3 separate regions of the Homo sapiens genome follow, and regions 1 and 3 are each reported to be linked to region 2. The links are microRNA targets in miRTarBase. Many come from high-throughput screens and were not tested one by one. Region 2 holds a microRNA gene; each other region holds the end of a gene's coding sequence.
What was found. Region 2 holds the annotated microRNA hsa-miR-6838-5p (AAGCAGCAGUGGCAAGACUCCU, at 873-894, shown strand). A microRNA usually pairs through its seed, bases 2 to 8, with sites in the 3' UTR of a target mRNA and lowers its output. Matches are read on the target gene's strand: a 7mer-m8 pairs with bases 2 to 8, a 7mer-A1 pairs with bases 2 to 7 and ends in A, and an 8mer does both.

Region 1: the mRNA of SETD1B is a reported target of hsa-miR-6838-5p. Seed matches in the 3' UTR shown: 8mer at 2,360-2,367.
Region 3: miRTarBase lists IPPK as a target of hsa-miR-6838-5p. Seed matches in the 3' UTR shown: 7mer-m8 at 1,753-1,759, 7mer-A1 at 1,457-1,463, 7mer-m8 at 608-614 and 7mer-m8 at 605-611.

Annotation. Positions count from the first base shown.
Region 1 is chr12:121,829,961-121,832,960 of GRCh38, reverse strand. SETD1B (SET domain containing 1B, histone lysine methyltransferase) reads right to left here. Exons shown (of 17, transcript NM_001353345.2): 17 at 305-2,895. The coding sequence ends at 2,722. Among named protein-coding and RNA genes, the nearest start is that of TIALD, 25 kb to the left of the region's middle.
Region 2 is chr7:44,071,167-44,074,300 of GRCh38, reverse strand. MIR6838 (microRNA 6838) reads left to right here and starts at 868; the gene lies at 868-923. POLM (DNA polymerase mu) reads left to right here. Exons shown (of 11, transcript NM_013284.4): 8 at 68-170; 9 at 276-518; 10 at 593-676; 11 at 924-2,239. The coding sequence ends at 1,010. RefSeq lists an enhancer at 3-202.
Region 3 is chr9:92,613,336-92,616,335 of GRCh38, forward strand. It overlaps IPPK (inositol-pentakisphosphate 2-kinase), which reads right to left. Exons shown (of 13, transcript NM_022755.6): 13 at 1-2,722. The coding sequence ends at 2,497. CENPP (centromere protein P) reads left to right here. Exons shown (of 8, transcript NM_001012267.3): 8 at 1-3,000. Among named protein-coding and RNA genes, the nearest start is that of IPPK, 55 kb to the right of the region's middle.

The DNA of each region.
Region 1 (3,000 bases), not on the chromosome of region 2:
AGAAAAATTTCTTAAAAATTAGCTGGGCATGGTGGTGTGCTCCTGTAGTCCCAGCTACTCAGGAGGCTGAGGTGGGAGGATCACTTGAGCCCAGGAAGTCAAGGCTGCAGTGAGCCATGATTGCACCACTGCACTCCAGCCTGAGGTGACAGAGTGAGACCCTGTCTCAAAAACAAACAAAAAAACCCCTGCTGATCTGAGTGTCTGAGTGGACCACTCCACCCTCCACAGAAGCAGGATGTGCTCCCAACAGAAAGAAAGAATAAAGAGGAGAGGGAGAGAGGAGAGCAAGAGAGACGGCGTATCTGTAAGAAAAGTCAGTATATTTATGGTTTGCTTTATAAAAGTTACTATAATACAATGGTACATAGTATTGAATTCACAAAAATATGAACAAATATTTACATCAAGACACACAACGGAAACACTTCTCTTCAAAACAAGTTACATATGGATGATGGAGTCTACCCGCACAAACATCCCTAAAACTCATTGGTTCTCATCTTTGCAGGGGGAGGGAGAGAAAGCAAAAAATAGCAGAAACCCCCAACTCTTGAAAAGCAGAGATTTGTTCAATGAAAAATGAGGGAGTTGAAAGAAAAATGACTCGACACATATCTTGATTATTGCAAACCACTCTGGGGCTGGGGCTCCTGGGGAGAGGGAGGTCTAGTCCCCTTAGTGAAGGCCAGCCGAGGTTAACACTGGGCACGATGGCTGGGAGCAAGGTGAGGCCAGGGGGAGGGGTGAGGCAAGGGTCCCTTCCCTGGTCTTCTCGAACACCCCCACTTCTTTTATGGGAAGGGGACAGAATGGAGACAGCCCTTTGGAGGCTGTACATGTAACTTGAATCAGCCGTCTCTACAAGCTACGCATTTCCTCATGTGAAAAATAAATTATTTCCTCAGTTGCACAATTAGGCAGAAAACCGCAAACGGAAGAGAAGTTCGCCGCTGTGCCCAGGTACCCCATCTGTGTCTTGTTGCCACCAATTTCCTTGATCTTGAAACCGGCGGGCACAGTCTCAAATAGAGAGGGCCTGGGGGAAAGGAATAAAAAAAAAACAACAAAAAACACACAACAAAACCACCAACAACAAAAAAGAGAAAAATAACAATTCTTTGTACAGAATTTACATGATAACAAGCTTGACACAAGCTGAGATACCAGAGGCTCCGGCCGCCTGCGTCCGCAGGGTGGGAGCAGCTCCCTCATGGAGCGCGCTCATCTTGATGAGGACTCCGGGTCACAACAGTCACTTTCCAGAAATTATTTACACGCCTCCTCTGCTTTCTGGGGTACGGGGGGACTTGCTTTTGTCTTTTTTTTCCTTTTTTTTTGGAAGTACAAAGAAATGAGCAAAAAATGTCTTCCCGCATGTTTCTACAAGAAACAATGTTCCCAAGAGAAAGTCCTTTGCGGCAGCCTCTATATACAGAAGTTGGTTCTGAACTTCAAAAACCTTTTTCCCCTTCCTTTTGATTTTATACACGCACAAGAAAAAAAAAAGCCATGGGAATAAATTCTGAAGAGATGGGAAGGGGGTCAAAAGGGAAAAAAAAACCGTCAAGGCTTAGATTTGTGTTTTTAAATCTTTTCCAAGATTTTCCTTTCTCTGGGAGAAGTAATCTGCTCCCTCCGAAAATAAATATGCTCTGGCCTTCTTAGGTTGAGGGGCTGCCGGCAGGGGGATGTGGGGTGTGGGTTGGGGGTGAGTGGGTGAAGCTTATAAGCCAAAAAATGCCACACGCAGACGGTCTGACAACCCGTAATGGCGGGACTGGGGGACCCGCCTGCCCTTGGGAGCCCTGTCCCACCCAGGGCGAAGGCAAGGGCAGAAGAGAGTGGCTGCCCGCGTTCTCAGCGCCCCTCACCTGCACTGGGGCCTCCGAGAGGCTCCCGCGTTGCTGGCATCCGAATGAGAAAGTAAACATTGAACCCAAGGTTTAGGGGGTGCTGGGGTGTGAGGTGGCAGGGAAAGCCCAGAGCGGAGACCCCTGCCTGGGACAGCTTAGCTCCATCAGGGTCCACCGGGTCAGTGGTGCCCCAGGCCTCTGGGGAAGGAACAGGCTGCAGCTCGGGTGGGGAAAGGTGTGGGGTCTCCTCACTGTGCCCACGGGCAGTGAGGGGCGCTTTCAGGGCGTAGTGTTCTGAGGTCAAGGCCGTGGGGGCCTCCATCCTTCCCACAGCACCTGGCCCTGCGTCCAGGTCCGGGTGGCTTCCAGGACACGGGCCACGCACAGCCACACTGAGGCCTCTGCAGACCCCCGCGGGGCCCCTCTCTGATTCCACCTTCACATTTCAACGGTTAAATGTCTTTTCTCACAACGAGGAAAAAAATAGAGAAGACAAAACAACGTAGCAGCATTCACAGGAAGAGGCCGAGGGTGATGGTGGGAGAGAGAAGAGACAGAGAAGAGAGAGAGGGGAGGAGAGACGGAGAGAGAGAAGCTGATGCTGGAGTTAAACAGAAATCCTGAAAGGGGCGTTTGTTAAAATGAGAGAGACGTGGGCTGAACGACAGAGAAGCCCTTTCCCGCGGAGGGGCCGGAGCCAGGGGCTCCAGGGGGTAGTGTGGGGCGCCAGGCCCTGAATGGCCGCTGGGTAGAGGACAGCACCTGAAATGGGGGCGGGCGCGGGGGGCCGGGCCCCGGGGCCAGGGGCTCCACGCTCGGGAGTCCCAGGGCTACGGCTGACATCCTTTGAGTCTGGTGCCGGGGCCTAGTTGAGGGTCCCCCGGCAGTTCTCGGAGCCACAGAGGCAGGGGATCTTGACGTCCTCGATGGGGAACTTATAGTCATAGGTAATCTCCTCATTGACGTTAATGTGCTGCTTCGAGTAGATGACTATCTTCTTCTGTGACTCCACCGTGATCACCTTGGCATAGCAGTTGGGCTGCAGGCAAGGTGGGGGGGAGAATGAGCCCCTGGTCCCCCAGGGTCCCCCACCACTGCAGACCCCCCAAACCCAACCAGGCCTGTGCTTAAGGCCTGACATGCC
Region 2 (3,134 bases):
GGGATGTGGCCTGGGGCTGGAGTGAGCAGGCCGTGTCCCTGAGTCAGAGTCAGACTGACGCCCTCAGGGGGAAGTTGCAGGGCCATGACGTGGACTTCCTCATCACCCACCCCAAGGAGGGTCAGGAGGCGGGGCTGCTGCCTAGAGTGATGTGCCGCCTGCAGGACCAGGTGAGGGCCTCCCTGCTCCCCAAGAGCCACCGCTGGCCAATGCCACTGCCTCCTGCTCTCTCCACACCACCGGATGGTCTCAGCCACGCCCGCCTCTCCCCACAGGGCCTCATCCTGTACCACCAGCACCAGCACAGCTGCTGTGAGTCCCCTACCCGCCTGGCCCAACAGAGCCACATGGACGCTTTTGAGAGAAGTTTCTGCATTTTCCGCCTACCACAACCTCCAGGGGCTGCTGTGGGGGGATCCACGAGGCCCTGCCCATCCTGGAAGGCCGTGAGAGTGGACTTGGTAGTTGCACCCGTCAGCCAGTTCCCTTTCGCCCTGCTCGGTTGGACTGGCTCCAAGGTAGGCAGTGTGCCGCTGGGCCGCCTGGGGGTGGGGCTGGGCCAGCCCTGCTGAGGACAATCCCTTCCCTACAGCTTTTCCAGCGGGAGCTGCGCCGCTTCAGCCGGAAGGAGAAGGGCCTGTGGCTGAACAGCCATGGGCTGTTTGACCCGGAGCAGGTACATTGTTGGGGACTGGGGACAGCAAACAGCACCCATAGTCCGCTCCCTGACCCACAATCTGAAATGGCCCCAGACCCCTCCAGCCTGAAACCCATAGGACCCGAATCTGGGTCTCCACACACAGTTCCTGGCCCTCAAGAGCACACCCCACCTCGGCGCTGGGCTCTTCCCCACCCTCAGTCTTCCTGCAGGGAAGCAGCAGTGGCAAGACTCCTAGGTCACGGAAGTCCTGCTTCTGTTGCAGAAGACATTTTTCCAAGCGGCTTCAGAGGAAGACATCTTCAGACACCTGGGCCTTGAGTACCTTCCTCCAGAGCAGAGAAACGCCTGAGCCTGCCTGTGTCCCCCACTTCCACTCAGGAAATTGGGCTGCCCCCAACCTGGCCACTGAATGTCTCCAGGCAGATATGCTGCCCCCTGACCCCCACCTTCACCCCTCCCCGCCAAGGCCTGGCTCTTCCGGAGGTCAATTGTGCCTGCAGGATCAGTTGAGCCCCTGCTGGTGTGCTGCAGGGTGTGATGAGGTGGGAGCCCTCAGTGCCAGCCTCATCACTGTGTGACCCTGGGTCTGCTCTTAGCCTCCCCATGGCTCACGTTCCTGCCCTGGATGGGATGTGAGTGGGGCCCACATCGTGGAGCTGTGGTGGGGCCTGCAGTCATGAATGGCAAGTGGTCCCTGATGTGCAGTGTCTCATTAGTTGCACTGCAGTTAACTGTGGCTCCTGCAGGGCACCCTGCCCAGAATGCCCAGAAGAGAACCATGCATACCTGCACTGCATTTGAGAGCCATGAGCTGGAGGCTGTGGTTCGTGCCAGCAAGGAGCCTACTGTCTGGTGTGCTGTAGGCATCTGGAGAGGGAGAGGGCCTGGGTAGGAGCTGGGAGGAAGATAATTTTCAACTATGGGGCTTCAGTACTGCAGCGCCCCGAGCCAGGCTCTGTGCTTCTGCCTTTAAGGCCTGTTCTCAGCACAATGTCTCAAAAATAGGTCATATCCTGCCACTCCCGTCGCAGAGCCCTTTAATGGTTCCAAACCCTAAGTCCACACATAGCCCCTGGCTCTGGCATCTCTCCAGCCCCACTGGCCCCGAGCTGCTTGACTCACCGGCTTCCTATTTGATGCACCCAGGCCCCCTTGTGGCCAACTCCCTCCCCTTCTCACTGAGGCAGAAGCACTGAGGTGGGCTGGACATGGGTGCCCTCCACGTCCCTCATATCCCCAGGCACACTCTGGCCTCAGGTTTTGCCCTGGCCATGTCATCTACCTGGAGTGGGCCCTCCCCTTCTTCAGGCCTTGAATCAAAAGCCACTTTGTTAGGCGAGGATTTCCCAGACCACTCATCACATTAAAAAATATTTTGAAAACATGCAGTAAAGTTGACTCTTGGGGTGCAGTTTTTGCACACGTAGGGCACACCAGGTCCATCCCCAGAACACTTCCCATGCTGTCCTATTGTGGTCATGTGCTTCTCCACCCCCACCCACTTAGCGGTGCTACATCCCTATAGTTTTGCTTTCTCTAGAATGTCATGTAAATAGAACCAAACTATATTTAACCTTTGGACTGGCCTCTCCCCACAGCCTAATGCCTTTGACGTTCCTGCAGGTTGCTGGGTATGTTGAGTTTGTAATTTGTTCCATGCCATGGGTGTTCTACAGTTTATCCATTCAGGTGTTGAATGTCTGGGTTGTGGCCGGATGCCGTGGCTCATGCCTGTAATCCTAGCACTTTGGGAGGCTGAGACGGGTGGATCACTTGAGGCCAGGAGTTTGAGACCAGCCTGGCCACCATGGCGAAACCCCATCTCTACAAAAAATACAAAAATTTGCTGGGCATGTTGGCTCATACCTGTATTCCCAGCTACACGGGAGGCTGAGGCATAAGAATTGCTTGAACCTGGGATGCCAAGGTTGCAGTGAGCTGAGATTGTGCCACTGCACTCCAGCCTGGGCGACAGAGCAAGAGTCTGCCTAAAAAGAAAAAAAGTCTGGGTTGTTTCCAGGGTTTGGAGATGATGAATCGTACTGCTACAGACATGCATGTACAGGTTTTCGTGTAACACATGGGTCTTCATTTCTCTTGGGTAAATAGGCACAGGATTACTGGGTCATTTGGTAAGTATATGTTTATTTCATAAGAGCCAAGTTGTTGTCCCGAGTGCGTCTGTCATTTTGCAGTCCACCAGCGTTGTGAGCACCCCTGTAAGTTAAACACCACAGTAGGCAGTTGCTCTGTATCCCTGTCAGCACTTGATAGTTGCAGTATTTGTTAACTTTAGCTTTTCTAGTAGTAGGTACATAACAGTAGCTCACTGTGGTTTTATTTTCATTTCCCTAATGCCTGATAACGTTGAACATCTGTTCACTGGCTTCTATGTCCTCACTGGTGAAGTGGCTGTTCAAGTCTCATTTTTAAAAATGGAATTGTTGGCCAGGCATGGTGACTCACACCTGTA
Region 3 (3,000 bases), not on the chromosome of region 2:
TGCCAAATAAAAGTGACACGTACAATGTGGTTTATAAAAATAAGCTTAACATCTGAGAAAATGTACCAAGTGGTTGTGTGTCCTCAGATGTGTGGGGAGGATCCATCCCCCACCCACTGCAGCCTCACACCGAGTCCACCTTGGACATGGTGGCCACATTACTCAGCTGGGAGAAGCCACCCTTATCCTGGTTCCTGCCTCCTGGGGGCTCTGGAGACGGATGCCTATGGCGCCTCATCTTTAAACTGTCCTTAGTAGCCCAGGGGAGCCACACCCTCACTCCCTGCCTCCCCCCGGTCCGCATGGTGGCACCGTGAGGCAGTCTCAGCAAGTCCTCATGCTGTTCTTGGTCTTCCACAAGAAAGTGAAGCTGTCAGCTTAATAACAAGAATGGCCTAAGACAGCAAAGACAGCACTGTTCCTGGGCTGGGACGCAAGGAATGAGGTCCTTTATGAAAGAAAGACCCCCCTGCATAGCCTAAGTGCTATATCGATCGTCCCGGATGTGCCTTAAGAACCGTGACCTCATCAGTCGCCCATTTAGCATTGTTAAGATCTGTGAACGCGTGTTGTCTCAAACCAGTCAGGGCCGTCATGACTACGCAGCAGCAGCAGTTTCCAAGACGGGCCAGAAACGCATCCACAGCAGTGGCACCCGCGGCTCAGGGGCTCCTCACAGCCCGGGCTGGTGGGAGCCAAGACCAGACAGAGTGGGGGTCTCCATCTGTTTTCTCTTCTCCCTCAAATACAGGCTGTTTTCATCGTGTCTAGTCCAGCCCTGTCTGGGCCCTGTGCTAGGCAATAACTCTTGCAGCCCTGAAGGACCTAGGGAGCCCAGCCCACCTTCCCACGGACTGGGGTTCCCTCACATGTGCACTTGAACCCAGGACCCAGCATCCTCCACACACCGTGACAATGGGCAAAATCATCCCAAACCAGGCTGCCCCAGCCCCAGCCCAGCAACAGTGAACTCCCTTGGGTCAAGACAGTACTCAACGGCCACTACCTCCACGCTTCCCAGAGCCTGCGGCTTGTCCGTGAGCTCCGTGCACTTCACCAAAGCCCCCATCCCAGCACACAGGACCCGTGTGTATGAGACGGTGTCATTGGAAGTGAGAAGAAAACAGTAAAAGTGTCCAGTTAGATAAGTATCTTTTTGCACCTCTGAGAGTAGAATTAGAAGTAAATATGACAGAATTGAACAATAAATTCTAGAAGAGTTGCCTTGATTCAAACAAGTATAATTCTCAAGTTATCACAAAATTTCCCACAAAAATTTACAATCAGCAAAATAGTTTCCTTATTTCTCATGTATCATTTTCATATAATTCCATGGTTTCACTAATATTATATGTTACAATAAGCCTCCATTAGTCCCTCAAAACGATGATATAAATAAGTCTGTACAACCTAGCATAGAATAAAAAACTGAAACCAAGATTCCCAACGTTTTTCATAGCAGCCGGGCACACTTTGGTGACCCCAACGAGAACCCTCTCGGCAGCAGCCAGGAGCTGTTCACCTTCCAGAAGCAGGGCCTGTGGCAGCCTAACAGGGAGAGGCCACGGGGCCCAAAAACGCAACACGTCTCAAGGCAAACCCGAGGGAGGAACTTGGTCTGGGAGGAAGAGAGAACTCGCTCCTCAACCACCCCAGACACTGGAGTGTCAGGAAAGCACTGAGCTGTTGGGGCACACTGCCCAGCCCGGCCACAGCAGCTCAGCCAGTCACAGCTCCACCTCCAACTTCTACAGCAGCAATTTTTAGTGGGAAAGAACAGCTCATCTCCCCCTCATGTGAAAGATTAAATTGTAAAGCAAAAAAAAAAAGGTCAATGCTCGCATGAGTGGTGTCCATCCTGACCTGAGCCTTGCGCTCCCTGCTGCCCTGTGTGGAACTGTGGGCTTCAGCACCTCCACAGGGACCCTGAGTCTACACTGCTCAGAATCGGCATCTGCGCGACCACGAGGTCACGCTGTGCAGCAGGGAACCACCTAAAAACCTGTGTTGATATGTGGCTTGCACTGAAAAAGTGACCATGTAACTCAGCTGGGGGAAGTTCCAGTAGTATCCATGTTTTCTTAAAAGTCCAAACTGTAAAATGTATGTGACAATTCAAGTTTTCTATGTTAGGAGTCTGGTGGTAGCAGATCCAAACCTTGGGTCTTAGAATAAGGCTTTTCGCATTAGAGAATCAGACATGAGCCCTGGTTGGGAAAGAAGAACTATCCAGAACGTCTTCCCAGGGCTTAACGGACACTTCCATTTTAAGAGTGTGAGCAGCTTCCTGGGACACAGCACTCACTTCCTACATTCCTTGTCCAGGAAGTTGTTTCTAGTGCTCTTCAATTCCATGTCTCCAAGAGGCAATCCCACCTCAAAAGGGGTTAAAAGCAAAAACATTCACAACCAAAGGTCACCCAACACAACAGAAAATATCTCTATCATTCAGCCTTCACATTATGTTCAAGTTTCAAAGACACTGCAGGGAAAGAGTTAGACCTTGTGGAGAACTAATGTGCAATCTTCGCTTTCCTTGAACCGAGTCGACATCACGGCGTTGTCTTTGGCACGTACAGTCTTTGAATAATAGTTGACGATCTTGCCGTCCAGTTTATACTGATGGGGAATGCTCTCGTAGGGCTTGAGGTCAAGGTCCAGCACAGACACGGAAAAGGCAAACCTGGACCTCGATGAAGGGACGACAGGCCTTTGATCAGAGCTGCAAGTAAAAAGTACCATTTCAGGATACACAAGCCCCCCATTCATTTCCCTCCCTCCCGTTCTCTCTCCCTTTCTTCTTTCAACTAGTATGTTTTTATGTTTTTTCTTTGACTTCTGCAAAGTTAGATAAATCAATCTCTTTTAAAAGAGAAGTGAATGGCCTCACACCCCAGCTCACAAAGAGCACTCGTTCTGTGCACCTGTGATCTGTGCGTGTGACAGCTGTCTGTGCCGGCTGTGTGCACCAGCGTGCAAAGCTTCCTCAGGCCAGTGCAC